Linked DNA regions of Homo sapiens. The protein of the gene in region 2 purifies or fractionates together with the protein of the main gene of each other region. This does not show direct contact. Each region holds a gene or a part of one and is shown on either strand. Other genes may lie near its edges.

Evidence for each region.
Region 1: the proteins of ADAMTSL1 (region 2) and ACOX1 purify together in Homo sapiens (affinity purification with mass spectrometry; 2 studies listed by BioGRID and IntAct, with this or other methods). This does not show direct contact.

The regions. Positions count from the first base shown.
Region 1 is NC_000017.11:75,969,167-75,976,166, reverse strand, and holds part of ACOX1 (peroxisomal acyl-coenzyme A oxidase 1), read left to right. Parts: intron 1-2,381; coding exon of another isoform or gene 2,382-2,542; intron 2,543-7,000. UniProt on the Homo sapiens protein: Involved in the initial and rate-limiting step of peroxisomal beta-oxidation of straight-chain saturated and unsaturated very-long-chain fatty acids.
Region 2 is NC_000009.12:18,680,089-18,687,211, reverse strand, and holds part of ADAMTSL1 (ADAMTS-like protein 1 isoform 4 precursor), read right to left. Parts: intron 6,901-7,123; coding exon 6,696-6,900; intron 5,401-6,695; coding exon 5,253-5,400; intron 2,497-5,252; coding exon 2,412-2,496; coding exon of another isoform or gene 2,408-2,411; exon of another isoform or gene 2,255-2,407; intron 1-2,254.

The DNA.
Region 1 (7,000 bases), on a different chromosome or scaffold from region 2:
GAGATCAGTTTTTAAGTAAGAGAAGGGGTTTGTAAATGAGTCCTGGAAATTATCGCATGCTATCGAGTTAAAGCCTCGGTTATATAATCTCATCGATTATAACTCACACCAGTGTTTTGTGTACCACTAAGAAAGAAAGAATGCTGCCAGTTAACCGTGACATGCTATTAATTGTGAAATACATCACCTTTCTTTCTTTTCTTTTCTTTCTTTCTTTCTTTTCTTTTCTTTCTTTTCCTTTCTTTTTCTTTCTCTTTCTCTTCCTCTTTCTTTTTCTTTCTCTCTCTTTCTTTCTCTCTCTCTCTCTCTCTCTGCATTTCCATTTATTTCCATTATCAGCAGGTGAAGAGGCATCTGCCACCTCACCCAGCTAACTTTTGTATTTTTAGTAGAAATGGGGTTTCACCATGTTGGCCAGGCTGGTCTCGAACTCCTGGCCTTGTGATCCACCCGCCCCTTCCTCCCAAAATGCTGGGATTACAGGCATAAGCCACTGCGCCTGGCTGAGAAAACATTTTTAACTGATGTTAATGAGCAGCTTCTAAACACATGATTAGGACGCAGAAGTCGTTCCCTCTGGTGGAATCTATAATGATTACATTAATTCATTTTGATTAATTAGAAATATTCGTATCTAAGAGCATCCATGTTGAGAGTTTTTTGTTTCTAAGTGGATTATGATTTATGTAAGATAGAAAAGACAATGGGACTGGGGCATGGTGGCTCACGCCTGTAATCCCAGCACTTTGGGTGGCTGAGGTGGGCAGATCACTTGAGGCCAGGCCACTTCATGACCAGCCTGGCCAACATGGCAAAACGCCTTCTCTACTAAAATACAAAATTAACCGGGCTTGGTGGCACACGCCTATAATCCCAGCTACTTGGGAGGCTGAGGCATGAGAATCACTTGAACCTAGGAGGCAGAGGTTGCCGTGAGCTGGGATCACACCACTGTACTCCAGCCTGGGCAACAGAGGGAGACTGTCTCCAAAAAAGAAAAAAAAAGAAATGGCGGGGATAACCGTGTAGTACTTATTTAGGAAATAGAAAAATAAGGGTATATTGTGTTTACTATTATTTCTTTCTTTCTTTCTTTTTTTTTTTTTTTTTTTTTTTGGAGACAGAGTCTCGCTCTGTCGCCCAGGCTGGAGTGCAGTGGTGCGATCTCGGCTCACTACAAGCTCCGCCTCCCGGGTTCACGCCATTCTCCCGCCTCAGCCTCCTGAGTAGCTGGGACTACAGGAGCCCACCACCACACCCGGCTAATTTTTTTTTTGTATTTTTCGTAGAGACGGGGTTTCACCATGTTAGCCAGGATGGTCTCGATCTGATGGTCTCGATCTCCTGACCTCGTGATCCACCCGCCTTGGCCTCCCAACGTGCTGGGATTACAGGCGTGAGCCACCGCGCCCGGCTACTATTATTTCTTTTAAGGTGGTAGTTTGGTTTCAGGGTCCCCCAGCACTGCAATGGCAGCCTATCCCTTCTGTCCTTTAGTTCATGCTCTGCTCATTGCACAGGTTAGGATAAACTGGTAGTAACATTGCTTCCTAATCATGTGTTGAGAAGTCGTGAAGATCAGTTAGATGAGATGTATTTTGTACTTTAAACTTTTTAGATACGAGCTTTGTCAAAGTACAAAATTGATCCCTATAAAATCTATGACACAGCACAGCCAAGGCCAACTACTGTGGATTCTGTTTTGTAAGAAGAGAGTTGAGGACTAAATTTCAATGTGATGTAGAGTTAATCCGTAGTAATGTTCATTGACCATTGGGGATAAATTTTTACATGCCCACATTACTTATTGTAAACCCTGAAGACCTTTAGCGATGTATGATTCTGCCCTGGAATATGTATTTACTCTTTTGGATATTTGCTTATATTATCTAGGGAAACATAGTTGAAATTATTTCTTCCTTGGAGCTCTTGTTAACAGCGCTATAAATAAGTGTTCTATGGAGTTATTTTTGCTCTTTGAAACAAACAGGTAAAACCTAAATAAAGCAAAAAAAAAAAACCACACACATTCTAAAAAATTCAACCAATCAAACCAGCAAATAACACCAACAACCTCCCCTTCCAAAAATTAGAGAAGTTTTTATGCTAAAACTTAGGTAGAATTTGCTTAGTGGATTAAATGTAAATACGAAATGAACTGTGGGAACTGTGGCCTTGAAATAATTAGAAGAAGAGAGATCATCAGGTTCTGCTGCTGGCTTTTTAGGTAGTAAAATGGTAAATCTTATATTTAATTTCATAAGAAGGGGGTTTACATTTTCCTGACCTTCTCCTTGAAGGCCAAAGCTGTTTGGCAAGAAGGGGTTGTAGGATGCAGTTTCTAAAGGAAGGCTGAGATCCTTTTCTCTTCTCTCCTGTAGACTACATTTGGTCAATTTTGTGGAACCTGTGGGCCTCAATTACTCCATGTTTATTCCTACCTTGCTGAATCAGGGCACCACTGCTCAGAAAGAGAAATGGCTGCTTTCATCCAAAGGACTCCAGATAATTGGCACCTACGCCCAGACGGAAATGGGCCACGGTTAGTCCACATTGAGGGTCTGTGGGTAACCCACCTCAGGACATCAGTTAACAGTGATTGCTGGCATTTGACTTTTTTCTGCTGCTACCTGTTTGGGATTCTATTTTTAAGTTGTTAAGTCAAAATTCAACTTCTTGTTTTCTCCTAGACATTTTCCCTGGAAACTGGTCCAGGGCTCTGGCCTATAAACGTCATTCACTGTTATTTCCTAAAGCCTTTTATTATTGAACAGCTTGAAAAGATGGGGTTTACAGTGCAGCGGGGAACCCCATTATGTTACTCTGGGTCTAATGAGTAAAGACTTTGTTGGAAATTCTTCAGAGGGTTAGTGCCTCAGCAATATCTGGAAAGCGCCTCTCTGCTCTAATGCAGTTAAAGCTGTGGATTTTAATGGGGGCAGCAGGCAGTGGCAGCTACCTGTCTCATCTCATTGCCCACTAGCAGGGTTATAAGGCAGTTTGGAAAAAAGTCCATGATTCTCTTCATCTGACTTCAGTCTTTTTAGACATTTTTTCCCCTACATGTCTGGGAACTCTTGTGTTGCCAGTAATTCTTTGTTAAATTGTTCCTAAATATCTGGCTTCCTTCAAAAAGTTTTGCTTTTGATCTTAATGTGAAATAGGTTTGTTTTCATAGACAAGGCCATTGGCAGGTTTGAGTGTTTGGAATTTGAACTGCCCAGCCTCATGTCTAATTATCAAAATGGCAGGAGTAAAGAAAGGGAAAGAAAAAGGGATGCAGATATCAGGGAAACATCATTTTGTGTTTGATTGCTGATTTCAGTGTGTGAATTGGTTTAAGGAAAATGTTATTTATTGTCATCTCCATGGGTACTGCAGCTTTCTGGTCATGGTTTGATGTTCCAGACACTTTACTAAACACTCAAGACTTCAACTTCAAGATGGTCAGTACTGAAATTATAAGCCTGAAAGAAAGGTTTGTAAAGGAAGATAAGATTCTTTTTTTTTTTTTTTTTTTTGAGACAGAGTTTTGCTTTTTTTGCCCAGGCTGGAGTGCAATGGCATGATCTCAGCTCACTGCAACCTCCGCCTCTGGGTTCAAGTGACTCTCCTGCCCGAGCCTCCCGAGTAGCTGGAATTACAGGTGCTCACCACCACGCCCGGCTGATTTTGTATTTTTAGTAGAGACGTGGTTTCTCCATGTTGGCCAGGCTGGTCTTTAACTCCTGACCTCAGGTGATCTGTCCACCTTGGCTTCCCAAAGTGCTGGGATTACAGGCTACAGGCGTGAGCCACCGCGCCTGGCTGACAGATCCTTCCTTTTTTTTTTTTTTTTTGGAGACAGAGTCTCACTCTGTCGCCCAGGCTGGAGTGCAGTTGTGCCATCTCGGCTCGGTGCAAGCTCCGCCTCCTGGGTTCACGCCATTCTCCTGCCTCAGCTCCTCAGTAGCTGGGACTACAGGTGCCCGCCACCACGCCCGGCTAATTTTTTGTATTTTAGTAGAGACGGGGTTTCACCGTGTAAGCCAGGATGGTCTTGATCTCCTGACCTCGTGATCTGCCCTCCCAAAGTCCTGGGATTACAAGGCATGAGCCACTGCACCCGGCCTGAGAGATAAGATTCTTTATGTAGTCCTCCTCGCTTGGAGTATCTGTGTGTTTGTGTACATGCATGCGTGGTGTGTGTGTGTGTTGTAATTTTGAAGTAGCTTTGTGGTACAGAACTCTGTTTCAGTATTCATCATTATAGAATTTATTCGACTTAACAGTCATGCTGTTCATAGGAGGCATAAGATGTGAAATAGTCTGAGGCTAATGGATTTGTTAAGTATACCTCTTACCTCTTGTTGGTCTAATGCTTCTGCCTCATTTATAAAGTAATATCACAAATATATATTTGCCCTAATTTTTTTTTTTTTTTTTGAGTCAGAGTCTCATCCTGTGCCCCAGGCTGAAGTGCAGTGGAGTGATCTCAGCTCACTGCAACCTCCACCTCCTGGGTTCAAGGGATTCTCCTGCCTCAGCCTCCTGAGTAGCTGGGATTACAGGCACCTGCCACCATGCCCGGCTAATTTTGTTATTTTTAGTAGAGATGGGGTTTGGCCATTTTGGCCAGGCTGGTCTCAAACTCCTTACCTCAGGTGATCCACCTGTCTCAGCCTCCCAAAGTGCTGGGATTACAGGTGTGAGTCACCACGCCCGGCCTGCCCTAATTTTTGAAAGGAGAGAGGAAGAAAGGAAGACTTGAACTATACTGGTTTGAGGCAAACAGAAGTTGGACAGAGATCCTATATGGCTGTGGGCAAGTTTGCATTTGTTAGAGTTTTCGTTCCCTTATTGCTTTTAGTTTTGGGTATTTTTTTTTTTTTTTTTGAGACAGAGTTTTGCTCTTGTTGCCCAGGCTGGAGTGCAATGGCGCGATCTCGGCTCCCCGCAACCTCCGCCTCCCAGGTTCAAGTGATTCTCCTGCCTCTCCCTCCCTAGTAGCTGGGATTAGAGGCGTGTGCCACCATGCCCGGCTAATTTTGTATTTTCAGTAGAGACGGGGTTTCTCCATGTTGGTCAGGCTGGTCTCGAACTCCCGACCTTAGGTGATCTGCCCGCCTCGGCCTCCCAAAGTGCTGGGATTATAGGCGTGAGCCATCATGCCCAGCTAGTTTTGGGTATTTTCTTGTATTTAAACCAACGTTGTCTTAATCTCTGTGGTTTAGAGAACAGTGTCCTAAGATTAGTCTTTTTTCTTGCTGGAATTTTGCTAATTCATATTGCTGTTCTTGGTTGATGACTGATCTTTTCCTTGGAAATAAGTCAGGTTGGTTAATTTGCATCACGTGACGGTTTTATCTTATATGGAATACACAAAAAGTCAACGTCCAGGAGATCGGCAATAGAGCAGCTTATATAGAATGAGATCTAACTATTTAAATTCTGAGACTTTGGAAAATGGATCAACAGTGAACAGTGATTATCTAACGCGGTCTCACAGAAGTAGCTGTAACTTTGGGTTTGGGATTCTTTCACTTCTGGGTAGCTGCTGAGAAGTGAAGGGGCTCAGAAGTATTCAGGTTCACTCCATGTTCCTTCCAAATCCTAAAATTCAGTCACCTACAGAAAGTCTCAGTCACCAGCATTATCCTTCTTTCTAGAGTGTGTCTTCTTTCCTCTAAGGACACGAAGAAACTCGGATATACACCTGCCCTGTGGGTCTGGGAGCCATAATCAAAGGCAGAGGCCTGAACCTGGGTGATAGGCTCACCTCCCTGGAGTTCTGGGATCAAAGGAACAGCCTGGGGAACTGGGTCCATGTTATCATCCTGACCATATGTTTCTTTAGGCCACAAAACAGGTCGTTTGTTTGCTCTTCACAGATATGTAATCATTTCAAGATGTGGCCATTTCTGGAGATTCTTCTTGCTTTGTTTTCCTTGTTTGCTTGCTTGCTCACTTCCTTCCTTCCTTCCTCTTTTTTTTTTTTTTTTTGAAGGAGTCTCATGTTGCCCAAGCTGGAGTGGTGCAATGGTACAATCTCGGCTCACTGCAACCTCCACCTCCCCCTGGTTGAAGTGATTCTCCTGCCTCAGCCTCCTGAGTAGCTGGGATCACAGGTGTGCACCACCATACCTGGCTAATATTTATATTTTTAGTAGAGACAGGGTTTCACCATGTTGGCCAGGCTGGTCTTGAACTCCTGACCTCAGGCGATCTGCCCACCTCGGCCTCCCAAAGTGCTGGGATTAGAAGTGTAAGCCACTGCACCCGGCCTCTTTCTCGCTCTCTTTCTGTCTTCTTCCCTTCCTCCATTCCTTTCGTTCCTTTCTTTCTTTATTCCTCACCCATGGACTGGGGTCACATTGCCTTGTTTCGTATTACCATCTATTTAGGAATATAGAGATTGTATGATACATAGTTATCCTTGAAGCTGATGCAGTATCCTGGCAAATTGCCATCATTAACACTTAAATATGAAATAATGCACCTTTCTTTGAAACTGGAAAGAGGTAGTAAACTTGATTTTTAAGTCATCAGTCTTTACCGCACTCCGTTGCCCTCTCTCCCTAGGCTTAACAGTCTCCTCTTCCCTCTGCCCAAGTGATTCTCTTCCCTGTTGGACTTCTCATGAGACTTGCTTCCCTGGGGATTTGGGCTAAATTTCACCAATATTAGTGATAATAATATAAACTTTATGAAAGCTGTGTTCTGGCCAGGCACGGTGGCTCACGCCTGTAATCCCAGCACTTTGGGAGGCCAGCGTGGGTGGATCACCTGAGGTCGGGAGTTCGAGACCAGCCTGACCAACATGGAGAAACCCCGTCCGTACTAAAAATACAAAATTACCTGGGTGTGATGGTGCGTGCCTGTAATCCCAGCTACTAGGGAGGCTGAGGCAGGAGAAGCTTTTGAACCTGGGAGGTGGAAGTTGTGGTGAGCTGAGATTGCGCCATTGCGCTCTAGCCTGGGTAACAACAGTGAGACTCCGTCTCAAAAAATAAATAAATAA
Region 2 (7,123 bases):
GGGTGCAGTGCACTAAACACATAAAGTGTATTAAAATGTAGAAACCATATACCTTTCATTACATTATTCTACAGCTGTCATTTATTTTATTTTGGTATAAAAGTAATTATTATTCTGAGCACAATAGTATACATTTCCCTTACCCTGCACCAGCACTCCAATTACAATCTACTCCAATTCAGATTAATCATGCCAAGATGGCAATTTCATTACACTAAGAGTAAATTTTAATAGTTTAATATATGGCTATACTTTCAATGGCTAAAACTTTTTTAACTACTTTAAAGATTTTATTAAGATTAAAGTTAAACGTAATGCATCTTAATCGGATCTTTAGTAGAAAATATTCATGACAAAATATGGTTGACGATGGTCTATGTAATGCTTCTGTGGATGCATTAAACTCCACTGATAGCTTTCATCTGAAAGGCATCTAATAATGGGAAGATGCTTATCGATGTAAGATGTTTCCATTTACTTTCAATTTTGTATTATTATTTACCATCAGCCAGAACGCAAGATTATACATAGGATTACGCTTTAGTCCAAGTGACAAAATACAGTGTACAAGGGGAAAAGAGTTTATTTAGGTAAAATAAAACATAACTGGTTTCAAATAGATTTAACCCAATAGGATATAAAAGGAGTCACCAGCTCTAATTACATAGCATCTTTCTGTGTCTTAAATAGGACCTTACTGGATTAAGAAGTTATTAATGCCCCCCTAAAAAGAACTGCTTATTTACTCCTCAGCAACAAAAAGGCCTGTCAAATCAGGTACTGGCAGAGGAGAAGCAAAAAATTGTAAGCCTTTATATTTTCATTCCAAGGTTACACTGTGATCTTTAATCACTCCCTTTCCTCCAAAGTTCTGCAGTGGTTAGTTGCTTTTTCTCAAAGAAGTCAAAAAGTTTGCTGTAGTAACTTTACAGTACAGAAATAATTTATGTTTGCTTAATTATCCTTCTAAGTAAAAATATGTGTTTTCCCGGGCCAGGCGCTGTGGCTCACGCCTGCAATCCCAGTACTTTGGGAGGCTGAGGCAGGCGGATTGCTTGAGGTCAGGAGTTTGAGACCAGCCTGGGAAACATGGAGAACCCCAGTCTCTGCAAAAAAAATTAAAAACATAGCCTGGTGTGGTGGCCTGCACCTGTAGTCCCAGCTACTCGGTAGGCTGAGGTGAGAGAATTCATTGAGCCTGGCAGGTGAAAGCTGCAGTGAGTTATGACCGTGCCACTACATCCATGCCCGGGTGACAGAGTGAGACCCTATCTCAAAAAAAAAAAATAGGGAAAAAAAGTGTTTTCTAATGTGTGCATCCTTTTGGTGTATGTGAAATCAAATGACAGAATATAGTTTCTTTACAAGTGACCTTTGGTTATGGTACAAATCTATATTTTGGATTTCTTGTGCACTCAGGAACACAGTTGTGTTCTGGCAAACCACATCAGATTTAGATTCAAACAGAATGAATCTGAGAAAATTCTAAATTGCATTTAAATAGGTTGCAACGTTAATTTATATCTCCAGTAAAATTTGGAAATCATTTTATATCCTACATGCTCCACTATTAACTCTTGGAGGGTGGATGAGTTATCTTAAGTGCCAGTGAATAGCACAGAGCTTAGAACTTACATTAAATGAATTAATTTAGAAAATTTTTCAACCTGAGAAATTTCTTGGGTCATAGATGAAATTTTTCAATCAATTGTATCCCCTCGTTTGTAAAAGTGATGTAGCAGCTATGCCTATCAGTGTTTTCTAATGAAATCAATACATAAACTTATCAATCATCCACTTAATCTACTTTTGTCTCTCCTATTTGTTTCCTCTTCTGAAGACACTGGCAAATCTGGGCCTCACGGTTTTACAGATTCCATGGACTTGATAAAATTGAGTAGACATGGGACATAATCAAGTGGGGCAAATAAGCAGGTCCATCCCTGATACCAATCCCAGGAAGAAAGGGAAAAGAAAAGTTAATGAACTTCCTTTGCCCTCAGGTATACTTTACTTGCTCTTTAATTTTTGTGACTGTATTGCAAAACTGGGAGAGTGTGAAAAGCAGCTCAGACTTTGGCATCAAATCTATGTTATATCATCAGCTGCAGCCTGGGCCTTCTCACCTTTGGCCCCTTGCGCAGAGAAGAGAGGAGGTCAGATTTTGGAGAAGAGGGTAAGCACTACACCTTCATTTTCTTACTTTAGGCAAAACAGAAGTATTTACAATGCAATCATCAGCTTTGACAAACACTTTTTGAAACTAATCAATCTTTAATTTGAGAGCCAAAAAGCTTTGGTGAGATGATTACACTTAGTTCAGAACCCATGAAAGCTACAACCAGTGAGACACTGCTTTCTTTAAACAAAACAGTTTCAAATATAGAACAGTCTGTGCTTTTACAACTTACGAGGGCTCCTCTGACACAGCAGCTCCTTCTTCTAGCTCTTGAGCTTGTTTGAACCATGGCAACTTGGCCTCGACTGGAAGTTTCTCTGAGAATTCAGTGCATGCACATACAAAAGAAGAGGTTAGAACCAATCTGGGATTTTAGGAAAATTCCTTATTCTCCTCACCAAGAAGTTACTACGTTGACCAACACGAATAAGTTTTTGGGTAAATTGCTGCCTCTGATGATGGTTATATCTAGAAAAATAAAGTCGAATTTTAAAATGTTTAATAATACTAGTTTGTGTGCAAGCTTTCTCTTTATTATGATGAATAGCAAAGGAAAGTCATTTTATTATGAAAGTTGTAAGTGTAGGAGCACTAGCTCAATATGCATATAAAGAATCATCGAAGTATCTTTTTACCATTCCCTCTTGAAAAGATAGAGCAGCATTTACCTTGGAAAACAAAGTACAGTCAATTATATTGTGATATTTTCATAAATTCTAACTTTTTTTTTTTTGCCTTTTAGCTAAGTGTGATCTATGTCACATTGCCAAAAACAAACTCTTTCACTCTGAAATTCACAAAACATTGATTTAGATATCTGACTCATTCAGTACTACCCCAAGGCTCACTGACAATTGGAATATGTGCAAATGAGGGTTCATAACACATAATTTGACTTATTTCACCTATTTATCTAGCTTTGGCCAAACAATTCAAAACAAACTTCCTAGTTACTTCCTGGGAAAAAAATTGTGGAGGAGAAAAATGAAGAGGGATGTTCTAACGGCTCTTACAGAAGTAACTGCCAAGATTCCCATTCTAGCATATTTATTAGGGTCATTTATGGGGATATTTGCCTTTATAGTATGAGCCAATGATGCTCTATCACCATTTTATAACATACAATTGCAAAGATGAAAGAAATATGTCTATACATATATGCACCATAGAATTATATGGTATTTTAATGATGTTTAGAGAGCCAGGCTCACTCCTTGGTTGTGAAAATCCAGACTTGATTCTTGATAGTTAACTGCAAACTGCTTTTCTTTCTCTGAAGTGGCTTGGTAAAGATAAAGCTAATAAACAATTGACTATTTTAAGTTAGGGGCATCACTTCTTGTTCTCTATGCACAGCAATTATTTATAGTCAAAAAACAAAGCAAGTGAGAAATATAAAACTGCCAAAGCCAAAATGATTTGCTAACATTTTAAACACAGCAACACCGTACCTATACATACATCATTTTACAACTACTCCAACTATCCCAGTAAATGACTCAGTCGGCTGGGCGTGGAGGCTCACGCCTGTAATCCTAGCACTTTGGGAGGCCGAGGCGATTACCTGAGCTCAGGAGTTCGAGACCAGCCTGGGCAACAAGGTGAAACCCCGTCTCTACCAAAAAAAAAAAATACAAAAAATTAGCTGGGCACGGCAGCATGCGCCTGTAATCCCAGTTACTCCGGAGGCTGAAGTAGGAGAATCGCCTCAGCCTGGGAGGCAGAGGTTGCAGTGAGCCGAGATCACGCCACTGAACTCCAGCCTGGGCAACAGAGTGAGACTCCGTCTCAAAAAAAAAAAACAAAAAAAACCTCAGTAAATGAAGCTGTCTCTGGTGGCATAGTTAGCTCTCTGTCTTTCAATAAGGAAGCATTCAGTTTGGCACTCATAGTAAGCTTGTAATACTTTATTGCTGTTTTGAACTAAATCCTGTCAGACGCACCTGTGGCAACCTCCTCCCATAGTTGAGGGCACTGACGATAGTCAGGAGTTAAAAGTAACTTACTGTATGTAGAAGTTACTATATTGCAGGCACTAGGTTAACCACCCTGTTTATGTTATATCTCATTTAACCTACGCATGATCTCTGATTTAGATACTATTATTACACCCATTTTACAGAGGAGGAAACCAAGGCTTCGAGAGAGATGCATTTATTAAAGTTAATCAGGATTTCTGTTTTTTTTTGTTTCCTTTTATATCATTAATTTAGATTTTATGATGCCATTCAGTTGCAATTAGGGCCACCTATAGTATAATAAAGAGCTACACTGTGACTGATTTTTCAGAGAAATTTAATGGCTTAAAAAATAAAGAAATGGGAGCCATATTTAATATTAAAAATTAAAGGGGGTTTAAAGAGTTCTTTACTTCTGAATGGTTTGTGACTTTGAATTTTTCTTTTCCATTGACACAGACAAGTAACAATACTTGTACAGAAATCAAATTCATATTCTTGCTAATCTGAGATATCCAGTGTAATTATAAGTCTGGCTCACTAAATGCTTAGTTCTACACTTTCCTAAAATTTCTTTTTTATAAATTATTGCAATATCTTTTAAATTCTGATATATTTTAAATTATGGTTCTGGAATTCAGTCTCATATTAATGTTTTAATTTTCAATATAAAAAGTGACAGTTTTCTGTTTCATCAGTTTGAAGTATGAGACTTCCCAATGTACTTCAGCCTTAGCAAAATAGACATACTTGGATTCACTCCCTTGTTTTTAAAGGCAAGAAATGTGGATAGTAAATCAAACATATATTTCTAGAATATCTGGTCTCCCTTTAAGCAGGTACATCCGTATTCTTCAGCAATAGTCCTCAAACAACTTTATGACTTGGGAGATAATTATATAAATATATTTCTACATGTAGTGGTTAATGAAATTTTGCAATCAAAATCACTTGAAAGATTCTTTAAGATAATCAAATTCCTTTAGTAGAGTTTAAGTTATAAAGAATTCTTACTAAGAATACTTGGGATACTTAAAAATATTCCAAGGAGTTTAAAACACACCTGACTACACACAACAATTAACAGGCTGGTAATAGAGCACCTGTCAAGTTACCTTTGGGTTTATAGCAGGGAGTGGGTACGATGCATTCCTCTTTTATGTGGGGCTTTGTTTTTGGGCTACAGCCTCCTGTGTGCATTCCTCGATGGTCGATGCAGAGGACCACACGGTATCTGAGGCCCTGGCCACATGTCACTGTGCACTGGAAAGAGATTGCAAGAGAGAGGAGACTCGTAGGCAAAGCCTTGTTTACTTTTCTTCACTTCCCATCGAAAACTTTTAATCTAAGTTTTCTTTTTCCCCGCCCCCCCCCCCCACACGAGGACTCCTGGTAAATTTATACCACTTCTTACCAGTCAAGGGATCTTTGTTCTATTTGGCTATTTGAGGTGAAGCTCGCTGAAAATTAAATCACTTTCAATTCCATAGCTTTGGATTAATCAGTCAGCAATCTTTAAGTACCCACTGTGTGCAAAGTCTCAAACCAAGCACCAAAAAGAAGAAAGGAGAAAAGAGACTGTAGAGTGTGCTTAATTTTGACTACCAGCACTGTATTTTATTTAGTTACTTTGCTAATGACCGCTACTTCCAAAAATATGGGAAATACCCCTACATGGATATCAAAAAATTTAAACTACGATTATAGCTAAATTATATTGCAGCATTGTTAATCCAATTGATTACATTGAAAGGCAAAAATAACATTTAAAAAAACAGATTGAATGACCAGATGCCCAATGTAGATTGCACCTCTAATGGTTCCCCATGTCTGGTAGCATGTCTAGATGTAGAAAATGTCACAGCTCTGATCTGCTGCCATGAAGCCACAGGGCTCAGTGAAGAGTCTTTTGTCATTTCTGAGGCGGAGGGCACAATGGCTTATTTCATCTTTCTGTTTCCTTTACGATTTTCCTTTCTGCATTAGCAGTCAGGAAACCCTGAATGACATTTTATGTTTAATTACAGCAGGTTTCCTAACATCTATAAGTTTTTTGTTTTAATTATCTTACTTCGTTCCAATTTTAATTTTTGTGCTATTTTCATTTCCTCTTCCCCCTTCTCCAATGATTAATATACATAGTTTTAATATTAATCCACTTAGACCCTTTCGGATACAAAGCATAATACATACAAAATGAAATCAAACTTCTGGTCTACTGAGCTCTATCATCAAAGCAGCTTTTACAGATTCGGGATCATTCATTCAGCCTCAATTACCCTTGAAAGGCAGTTGCTTCCCCGTGCTATTTGAGGGAACATTATCTGGGGAACAATAGAGGCTTCTTGAAGAAACTTGAAGAAAGACACTTTAAAAAAACATCATTTACTTTTGGTCATGCTGGATTTGGGGCATTCCTACTCCAGGAGCTAAGCTGGTAGGCTTCTAGACACCTCAAGAAGAGTGTGGAGCTGCTCAGGGTACCCGGTGGGGCCATGATGATGAGAGGGAAGAGTGGACTTACTCTCCTAATGAACAAAGAAAGAAGGCACAGTTACCGGAGACCACTCCTGTGCCAGCCATTTAGGGCAGTCAAAAATGTTGCAGGGCTGCGCGATGGGCATCTTAGGGGTGTACATGCATTTCCACTCTTCCACTGAAGTGACATGCCCCTGGATGTCCTCCTCCACACAGGAAACTGCCCGGCTCTGGATGCCCCCCCCACACGAGGAGGAGCACGCGGTCCATGGGGTGGCCTCCCACCTACAGAAGCAAGGGGAGTCATCAGGGCAGACATGCACATTGCTAAGCCTCCTCAGTGACTGGTCCACCAACCCACTCCCCATGTCTATTGGTATAATCAGGTTCTGAGAGGCTAAGGTCCAGAAAACCAAAAGCCATCTATTGCCTGAAACCTGATGAGTAAGAGAGAAGGATTCAACATTGGCAAAAGGGCTCTGCAAACCGTGAAGCTCTATACAAATGT